Regions from separate parts of the Homo sapiens genome. Here regions 2 and 3 are each reported to be linked to region 1. Evidence: microRNA targets listed by miRTarBase, many of them from high-throughput screens and not tested one by one. Region 1 holds a microRNA gene; each other region holds the end of a gene's coding sequence.
The links. The annotated mature microRNA hsa-miR-4283 reads UGGGGCUCAGCGAGUUU and lies in region 1 at 2,379-2,395, shown strand. An mRNA with a match to its seed (bases 2 to 7 or 8) in the 3' UTR can be bound and repressed. Matches are read on the target gene's strand: a 7mer-m8 pairs with bases 2 to 8, a 7mer-A1 pairs with bases 2 to 7 and ends in A, and an 8mer does both.

Region 2: miRTarBase lists RNF185 as a target of hsa-miR-4283. Seed matches in the 3' UTR shown: 8mer at 1,979-1,986, 7mer-A1 at 2,300-2,306 and 7mer-m8 at 2,955-2,961.
Region 3: miRTarBase lists TESPA1 as a target of hsa-miR-4283. The part of its 3' UTR that is shown has no 7-base or 8-base seed match.

The regions. Positions count from the first base shown.
Region 1 is chr7:63,618,722-63,622,065 of GRCh38, forward strand. MIR4283-2 (microRNA 4283-2) reads left to right here and starts at 2,369; the gene lies at 2,369-2,448.
Region 2 is chr22:31,203,812-31,207,155 of GRCh38, forward strand. It overlaps RNF185 (ring finger protein 185), which reads left to right. Exons shown (of 7, transcript NM_152267.4): 7 at 678-3,208. The coding sequence ends at 775. Among named protein-coding and RNA genes, the nearest start is that of LIMK2, 6.8 kb to the right of the region's middle.
Region 3 is chr12:54,958,334-54,961,333 of GRCh38, reverse strand. It overlaps TESPA1 (thymocyte expressed, positive selection associated 1), which reads left to right. Exons shown (of 11, transcript NM_001136030.3): 10 at 67-166. The coding sequence ends at 165. Among named protein-coding and RNA genes, the nearest start is that of TESPA1, 25 kb to the left of the region's middle. RefSeq lists an enhancer at 1,964-2,013.

The DNA.
Region 1 (3,344 bases):
GCTGGGCAGGCGGGTGCTGTCGTCACAGTGGAGGCCGCCAGCCTTCCTTCCCAGGAAGGGCTTGGTCTCAGGGTGGGGGCACAGAAAGGATGTACGGAGCCCAGGAGCAGAGGGGCAGGAGGGGAAAGGAGACAGGGAGCATCCTGGAATCACGAGGCTGGACAGACCCGCAGGTTTTACGGATCCAGACACTGAGGCCCAGAGAGGGTGAGCACCCTGCCCCAGGACACACAGCCTGCAGGTGCCTGGTCCCACTTCCTGGAGCTCTGCCGGGCACCACGGCTCCAGGGAGTGCTCCGGTGTTTTCCCAGCACTTGGCAACAGATGGCTCCAACTCTCACCCACGGACGCCAAACATTTTCCCTGGTTACCCTGCTAATTTGCTCACAGCCTCCTCTTGTAAATAGAGAGTACAAAGGCTCCTCCGAGTAGTGTGTATGCCGGGCAGACGCTGATGCCACGGGGAGAGGCCTTAGAAGGAGCATAGGAAAGTCCCAGGTAAGAACTAGGTAAGGCCCAGGTAAGGCCAGGATCCTTGGCTGACCTGGGGTCGTGGGAAGGACAGTGGCTCGGGGCCCAGGCAGACCTGGTTCAGGTCTTGGCTCTGTGCTCCCTTGGAGCCCGGCTGGGAATCTTGCACTGGCCTCAGGCCCTCTGGCATCAGTTTTCTCATCTGTGAAATGGGCACGTTAATGCCAAAGGCGTAAAACAGGAGCTATTATGTAGGTGCTCAGGGACTGGATGAATCTGTGGGAATCTAGCCATCCTTCCTGCCTTCATCTGGGGTCAACAGGGTGGCGGCTGCACCCTGGGCAGCATCCCTGCCCCTCCGTCCCCAACAGTAGTCCCTTCACCCAGCCCTTTTGACAGAATTCTTTCAACAACACTTATCAGGTCCTCCTCAGTACCCAGCCCTGTCACGAGGCCCAGAGAGGAGCTGATTCAAGCTTCCACACCGGGTGGCCTTGGGCAGCTGCCTTCACTTCTCTGGGCCTCATTCCCTTGAGCCTCCCACAGAGGTCACAGGGAGGATTCCATGAGATGATGTGTGCTCAGGGTGCTCAGAGTCACTCCTACCATGCAGCAGTCAGGGAAGGCTTCCTGGAGGAGGCAACACTAGTCCTTACACCTTACAGATGCATGGGCATGATTGGGTATGGCTGGTGCTTCCAGTGGGGGTTGGGTGGGGAGGCACCTCATAGGCTCAGGCAGGGCCTGGGGTGCCCAGCTGCATGGAGGGGTTTGGAGCCGGCTGGAAAGGGGACTCCAGGCTGACCTCGGGTCCCTTGGGCCTCCCTTCCCCATAACCTCCTTCACAGCAGCCCAGCTGATAATGAAGTGCTCCTTCTAGCCGACAGCTCCTGGAGCTGGGCCAGGAGGCTCCTCCTGTCCTGGGCCTGCCTCCAGCTGCTGCCCACAGTCCCAGAAAGACTTTACCGCACCTCTCCGGCCTGGGGTGTCCTGGGGGATGAAGCTCCAGGAGGCCACCTATGGCTTGGGGCCCCAGTCCCAGAAGCCTGGCCTGGGGCGCACCTCTCTGGTCTTCAGGAAGAGGGGCCTGGAATGAGAGTGGGGGCGTCCAGTGGGGCAGCTTAACCGGGCAGGGCTGATGGGACCGCGGGCTGGGGAGGGACCGGGGCCTGGGGAGGAACCAGAATCTGCCTGGCCTCACTGTGTGACTTGGGTGAGCTCCTCTACCTCTCTGAGCCTGGGCTTCCCATCTGTCTGGGATGTCTCCCCTCCTGTAGTCACTGTGAGGTTCTGAGCAGAGGACACTCTTAGCCCAGAGCCTGGCGCATAGCTGGTGCGGTGAGCGCCAGCCCCTCCCTGTTCCTGCAGAGCCCTGCCGTTCAGCGCACACAGGCTGCCTTGCCCTCTCCAGAGAGGATCATGGGGCTTAATTTGTTGATTGAATTTGCTTGTTTGGCCCAGATGGTTGGGTCTCGTTTTCTTTTTTTCTTTCTTTTTTTTGGAGACGGAGTCTTGCTCCATCACCTGGGCTGAAGTGCAGTGGCATGATCTCGGCTCACTGCAACCTCCGCCTCCTGTGTACAAGCGATTCTCCTGCCTCAGCCTCCCAAGTACCTGGGATTACAGGCACGCACCACCATGCCTGGCTAATTTTTGTATTTTTGGTAGGGATGGGGTTTCGCCACGTTGGCCAGGCTGGTCTCAAACTCCTGACCTCAGGTGATCCACCCACCTCGGCCTCCCAAAGTCCTGAGATTACAAGCATGAGCCACCACGCCTGGCCGTGGGTCTCGTTTTCTCTTGCAAGTTTGACTCCATGGTGCCTGAATGCAGGGGAAGCAGGTGGTGTCCTGTCCCGGCAAAGGCAGACATGGGGCTGACACAGAACGGCCCAGGGACTCTGATCCTGGGGCTCAGCGAGTTTGCAAGGGGTGTTTCTGTCCATGGTCAGGCTTGCCAGCCTTGGTCCTTGGGCCCACCATAAGGTGGCCCAGTCCTGACCCTGTCTTGGAATTGCTGAGAGCAGAAATGCAGTAATGTGTCACCATGATGATGTCTGGTGTCATGCTATCAGACCCACCATTCCTCAGTGGGACCCCTGCCTCACCACTCACCAGCTGGCTCCCTGGTCTGCAAAAGGTGGTTCACTGGTACCCAGGTCCCTGTGCGAATGAGAGGAGCTGACTTCTATGAAAGCCACTCCCTGCACCCAGGGAGACTAAGGAGGTGGGAGGCTCTCGTCCCCTGAAAGCCCAGCCAGCCAGCCCCCTCTCCTTCTGCCTCCCCAGGGAACCGTGTCCTGAGCAGGGCCCTTCACCCCATCTCTGTCTGATCTCCACTGCGTGTACGGATTGACGGGAAAGATTCTAATGGGCTTTAAGTTAACAAGCTGGGAACGAATTAAGTTTGATCTCTGCCAGAAGCAGATGGCATAGCTTCCTGGCCTGGAACAGCCCGGCTGGAGCAGTGGCAGGTGGCAAGGGCTGGGTGGGGGGTTGCCCCACTGGGCTCTCTATTTTTCTCTCCTTCCCCCAACTTTTTTTTTTTTTTTTGAGACGGAGTCTTGCTCTGCCACTCAGGCTGGAGTAAAGAGGTATGATCTCGGCTCACAGCAACCTCTGCCTCCCGGGTTCAAGTGACTCTCCTGCCTCATGCTCCCAAGTAGCTGGGATTACAGGCACCCGCCACCACACCCTGCTGATTTTTGTATTTTTAGTAGAGGCGGGGTTTCACCATATTATGGGCTAGACTGGTCTGGAACTCCCGACCTCAGGTGATCCACCTGCCTTGGCCTCCCAAAGCGCTGGGATTACAGGCTGAGCCACTGTGCCCGGCCTCTCCTCCCCCCACACATTTTATTATGTTTTATTTTA
Region 2 (3,344 bases), not on the chromosome of region 1:
GATCATCTGAGGTCAGGAGTTTGAGACCAGCCTGGCTAACATGGTGAAACCCTGTTCCTACTAAAAATACAAAAAAAAAATTAGCCGGGTGTGGTGGTGCGTGCCTGTAATCCCAGCTACTCAGGAGGCTGAGGCAGCAGAATCGCTTGAACCTAGGAGGTGGAGGTTGCAGTGAGCCGAGATCGTGCCATTGCACTCCAGCCTGGGCAACAAGAGCAAAACTCCACCTCAAAAAGAAAAAAAAAAAAAAAGGCCAGGCATGGTGGCTCATGCCTGTAATCCCAGCACTTTTGGAGGCTGAGGCAGGCGGATCACAAGGTCAGGAGTTCGAGACCAGCCTGACCAACATGGTGAAACCCCGTCTCTACTAAAAATACAAAAATTAGCCAGGCTTGGTGGCGCACACCTGTAATCCCAGCTACTTAGGAGGCTGAGGCAGGAGAATCGCTTGAACCTGGGAAGCGGAGGTTGCAGTGAGCTGAGATCGTGCCACTGCACTCTAGCCTGGGCAACAGAGCGAGACTACATTTCAAAAAAAAAAAAAAGAAATCTTTTTGTGTGTAGGATTCTGATGTTGTAAAGAGATAAAGATTGATGCTGTCAACTTCTGGCCTGAGTGGGCAGTGTGCATAGCTGCAGTGTTCTAATAGCCTGTTTTCTCCTTTCTGTCTCTCCAGCTGTCCCTGGGACACCCCAGTATGTGGACGAGCAGTTCCTGTCACGCCTCTTCCTATTTGTGGCCCTGGTGATCATGTTCTGGCTCCTGATTGCCTAATGCTGGGCTCCTGCCTACATCCGTGGCAGGGCTCTGGACTGGTGACGTGCCACCCCAACTCCTGGTGTTTGGCTTCCTGGCTAATCTTGACTCCTGGAATCAGTGGGATCAGTAACACATCAAGGAGTCTTGTTTCTTCATCAGAGCTTTGGAACTCGAGACCAGTTGGCGATGACCCCTGAATATCGCCACCGCTGTAAACACTCTATAACTTCAGGCCTTGGCATTGAGTCATCTCTCATGGGTGACACCATGAAATCTTGTTTCAGCCAGTTCTGCAGGTCCTGACTCTGCAGAGGGAAGAGGCAGAAAGAGAGAAACTGTCAGAGTATAATTTCACCTGAGTTTAATATTACAGAAACAAAGGGATGCACCAAATGGTATTTCTGGAAATTTTCATGTCTTTAAATACCCCTTGGTAAGTTGCTTCTGAAGCCAGTGGGGGCTCCTCAGATAGAGAGGTTCCCCTTTCAAATCCCAGTGCCGCTCTGTTCTCTTTCCTTCCCCTCCCACTCCCCCTCTTCTTCCTCTGTAGAGATGCAAGAAATTGCTGTCCCATAAAAATCATAATTGCAGTAGCTAAAGCTGGGGTCACTTCGTGAATTCACCAGAGACTCAAAGATCTTTTATTGGCTCTGGGCTGTGCTCAGTGTCTTTGGCCTCAGAGAACAACTTGAATGACTTCCTGGTTTCCTGGCATAAATTATTCCTGGTGAGACATGTGGCTTAACTCACAGGTTTCCCATCAGCTTTCTCCCTAAAACTATGTTCATCTGCCTCTCTCTGCCAGAGAACATACAGCCGAGAATACTGCCGAAGCTGAGACTGACTACTGTGCATTAGGAAAGACCTGGAGTCAGGACTTTGGTGGGATTTGGAGCTCCGAGGCAGTAATAACTGAACAAGCAGCCCTGTCCCCTAGGCTGCAGAAGCTTGAATGCATCCTCTCCCAGAACCTGCCACAGGAAACTGGGGGCTTTGTCAGGTCAGCCCAACTGCATGCAAAAGACCACCATCCTCAGAAGCCAAGTTGTCTTTTATGAAGAGGCAAGGAAAGGGGAAACCCACATGTGACCCTGATTTTGGTATGGCTTGATAGAGTTCCCTGAAAACTCCTTGTATGTGTGCTAAAACCAGGGAAGCATGTGACTGCCAAGCAGGCAACCCCTGATGATTTGTAAAGCCAGGTGGCAGGGCCTTGGGGAGCCCCAGCACAATGATATTGTGTGGTCTTCCCTCCTGTGGAATCGAGGGGAAATTATTCTTCCCAATACCTTGATTTGATTTTCAGTTTCATAAGCTTCTTCCTCTGAATCTTATTGAGGGACTATGGTACCAAGCAGGTAGGACTGTTCACCTGGTGGAACAGTTCTTGCTCTGCCTTCTAGGCTTCATCCCAGAAATCCAGCCTCTTTCTGGAGACCCCAAAGCTGGAGGGAGATGGGCTTTCCTCTGGGCCTCTCTCCTACTTTGCCATCCACACTGCTCCTGGCTAACCCCAGCAATAACCAACAAATGGTAGGAAGCCCCATCTATTGCTTTTTCTCAATTATGACTGCATAGTTTATGGAAACAAAGATCTTGAGGAAGATGAGGGAAGCCCTCCCCTCTTCACAGTCCCCATCTCTTCTCCTTTGTACCTGTCAACACCAGAGTTCAGTGTTTAAACAGACAAAATATAAAGTATTGAGTAGGTGGTTCATATGCCGAATCCACTTGGTAGGAAGAAACCACCAGCTTTATAGTGTGCCTGATAGATTTTAAACATTCCTGGGCACCCACTCAAGAGTGCTCTTTTTATCACCTTCTGGAAATCCGCAAAGTTGCAGGGGCCTCTGGAGTGTCTCTTCTCTAGAGAGAATTGGTGGGACCCCCCTCAGTGCAGTGGCCCCAACTAGTGGAGGGAGAGAGGACTTAAGTCAGATGGACTCAACAGAAATGGGTTTCCAGAAGAATAATGAAAAGTTGTGGGTAGGAAAATGAATCATTTGGACTCTTCAATGAAATGGAGTGAGCCCAGGAGAGCTCAGCCAACAGAGGCACTCTGGGAACCTGTTAGTAAAGCCAGGCTGGCCAAATGCCATTTGATTTTGAACCTCGTAGGTCCCCACTCACCCTCTGCCAGGAGCTAAGTAAGGCAGGAGAGCTGACTTGGGACTCCTGGCTCGGCCCCAACAGGGAGCCCCCTTCCCACCATCCCTCGGCAAGCTCACCACCTCATCCTTCTGCCAAGGCAGCTTTCCTTTCTTTTGTGTGTTTTCTGTGTTCTTAGCCTCCACCCTCCTCCTGCCACCCTTGTGGACTAGGACCAGGTCCTGACCCCAGTCAGAAAATGATGATATGTACAGTGGCACACCTTAACCAGTCACTAATTTTCACTGTTGTGAAAGTGATTTGATTTAGAATTAAACAAATGGTTTTACATTACTATGAGCTTGGACTTCTTGTCTGTGTTGTGGAGGGCGAGTGGGTGGGGAGTAGTCACACTGGTATGCCCTCCTGGAGGCTCCTGTGCATCCTCCGTAATGTCACACTGAGAACGAAAGTCTTCAAAGAAGCTGGGCATGAC
Region 3 (3,000 bases), not on the chromosome of region 1:
CCTGCACCTTTCCTTACCCCCTTTCCCCCTTGGCTCTGGCTGAGTTCTGTGGGATCTTGGTTACAGGTGCAAAGCAACAGTGAGGAGGAGCAGAGTCAGAGTCGCTGGCCCAGCAGACCCAGGCACCCCCACCACCACCAGACTTTTGCTGGCAAAGACTCGTGAAGTAAGTGGGCCTCTCTCAGGCAGTTCTCAAACCTGGCTGCACATTGTAATCAAATGAGGAAGGTTTTTTTTTTTTAAACCCATAATAAAGGGTCCCACATTCTGTAATTCTGATTTAATTGGAAACCAATGACTAATTATTTTAAGCTTCCAGGTAATTCTATTATGGCTGGAAAATACCTCTCTAGATCAATGATGCCCAGGCTTTGGCAGGCATCACAATCACCTGGAGGGCTTGTTAAAATACAAATGACCAGATCCCAGCTCCCAGAGTGTCTGATTGAATTGGCCTGGATAGAACCAAAGAATTTGCATTTCTAAGAAGTTCTCAGGTGATGCTATTGCTGCTGGTCTGGTAATCACAGTCTGAGAACTGCTGTTCCAGGAGACATTGTGTAGAACTTTAATATTCAAACTGTAGTGTACAGATACAAGGAGCATCAGCATCCCCTGGGATTTTGTTAGAAATGTGGACTGTCAGCCCCCACCCCAGACCTAATGAATCACAGTTTTACCAAGATCTTTAGGTTAGATAATTGATTGCATATTGAAGTTTGAAACTCATTGTAGTAGAAGTTTTGTAACAGGTGAGGACCAGCCATGGAAATCAATATCCCAACACCTGCTTTCAGCTATGTTCTAATCAGCCCACATCATTGAACTCAGAGCAGACTCCTCAATGTACCTCACAGCTATGCTCATTTAGGGTCTGAGCTCCCTTCTGCAACTGTGGTCTGATGAAGGTAGCTCTCCCTCCCCTCCTCAAAGCAGGAAATGAATTTCACATTGTTATTTATTGCAGCTAAAATTTCTTTCCTCCAGATATGAGTTTTTCAGTATTAATTTTTTCAGAGATATCTCTTATACCTTTAAATAGTTTGGCCAGTAATTTATTATTTAAACTAATGAAAATTAATCTTTCTGTAGTTTTAACCACCTATCTGCTACAACCACAAAGAAAATGGCATAAGGGATAATGGTATTTTCCCCAGATAGTATAAATTAAAATCTTTATTGAATTAAGTAAATAAATCTTGCTTAGAGATTCCTTTATTTTGGATATCTTGGTACCATTTTCTACATTTTCTAGTCTAATTGTTTTCTTAGTTAATACTCCAAAATTTCAGTGGTACTTGCTCAGACACACAAAGATATTTACAATTCTAACTGTTTTAATTCTAATTCTCTGTGGTTTTAGGAATCTAATCACTCTTGTTTCTCTCTTACCTACTACCTACATCTCAGGGTATATGAATCATATGTATGTATTTAGTCACAAAAGAGGTAAATAGCAGAAGGCATCAATATGTCATATGCACTTCAAGAAGTTTCAGATGGTTTCAGTTGCTGGTCTGGCATGTTAGGAGCTAGAAGCGGCCACTCCACCCAAACAACAAGTAAAAACCTGAACAGACTGAAAAATTAGTAACCGTTCTAGACCCATCAGAGAAGTGGGTCACAGGGCAAACCACTTCTCCTCAAATTAGAGAAATAGGCAAATGCAAAGATTTATGACTTGTTAGAGCAAAAACCCCAAAGCATAAACTCCCCCAGGAATCAGAACCACGGTAGAGAACCCGGACAATAACCGAGGAATTACTGGATGCTCAGCATGGACCAGTCTGAGAAATAAAAACTCTAGGGAGACCCAGTCATTGGGAGGCCCCTTGTTTCTGGGAGTCTTACTTCTAGGAGCTCAACCATGTTCTCACAGGAAATACTGGAGAAAAATCCCCTAGTGTTTCCCGCAGGGGGCGGGAGAAAGGAACCATTTTGAAATGCAGCAGAGCATTCTATTCCTCTTAACAAAGTCTTCCCTCGGGAGAAACTAGATACCAAAAACCTAACCGGATGAGGTTTTATCAGAGACTAACCGACCTGAAGGAAGGGAAACACCCAACTCCTGCCTACTCTAGCCATCCCGTCCCATTAAAGGGGACAGAGAGGATGAGAAGCACAGGTGAGAGTCACAATCCAGAGGCACAGTCTCACTGGAAGACTGAGACCTAACCATAAGACCATGGAACGCTTCCCTTCTCCCTAAACCTTACCACCACATTACTAAAAGCCTATTTACATCAATTTCTTTTACTCAGTACATCGCGTCCAGTTGTAAAAAAAAGACATAGTAAAAGGCAAAAACAGGTTGAAGAAACAGAGAAAACGTTAAAACCAGTCTCAGATATGACAGGGATGTTAGGATTATCAAACTGGAAATTTAAAACAACTAAAATGATAAGGGCTCTAATGGATAAAGTAGTCTGTGCGCAAGAACAAATGAACAGAGAGATGGAAATCCTTAGAGTAAAAAAAATGCTAGAGATAAAAAATGGTGTCACAGAAATGAGGAATGCCTTTGATGGGCTTATTGGTGGACTGGACATGGCTGAGGAAAGAATCTCTGAGCTTGAGACTATAGCTATAAAAACCACCAAAACTGAAAAGCTAAGAGAAGACTGAAAAAAATATAAGAGAATATCCATGAAATGTGGGACAGTTACAAAAGGTGTAACATATGCATAATGGAAATTCCAGAAGGAGAAGAAAGAGAGAAAGAAATAAAAGAAATATCTGAAACAATAATAATTGAGAATTCCCCCAAATGAATGTCAGATACCAAACCACAGATCCAGAGAGCTCAGAGAACACCGAAAAGAATAAACACACGCACAAAAAAACGCAAAAATCTACACCTAAGCTTATAATTTTTAAACTACAGAAAATCACAAGTAAAGGGAAAAATCATAAAAGAAGCCAGAAGGAAAAAACACCTTACCTATAAAAAAACAAAGATAAGAATTACATGCAACTTCTCCTCAGAAAATGTGTAGTATA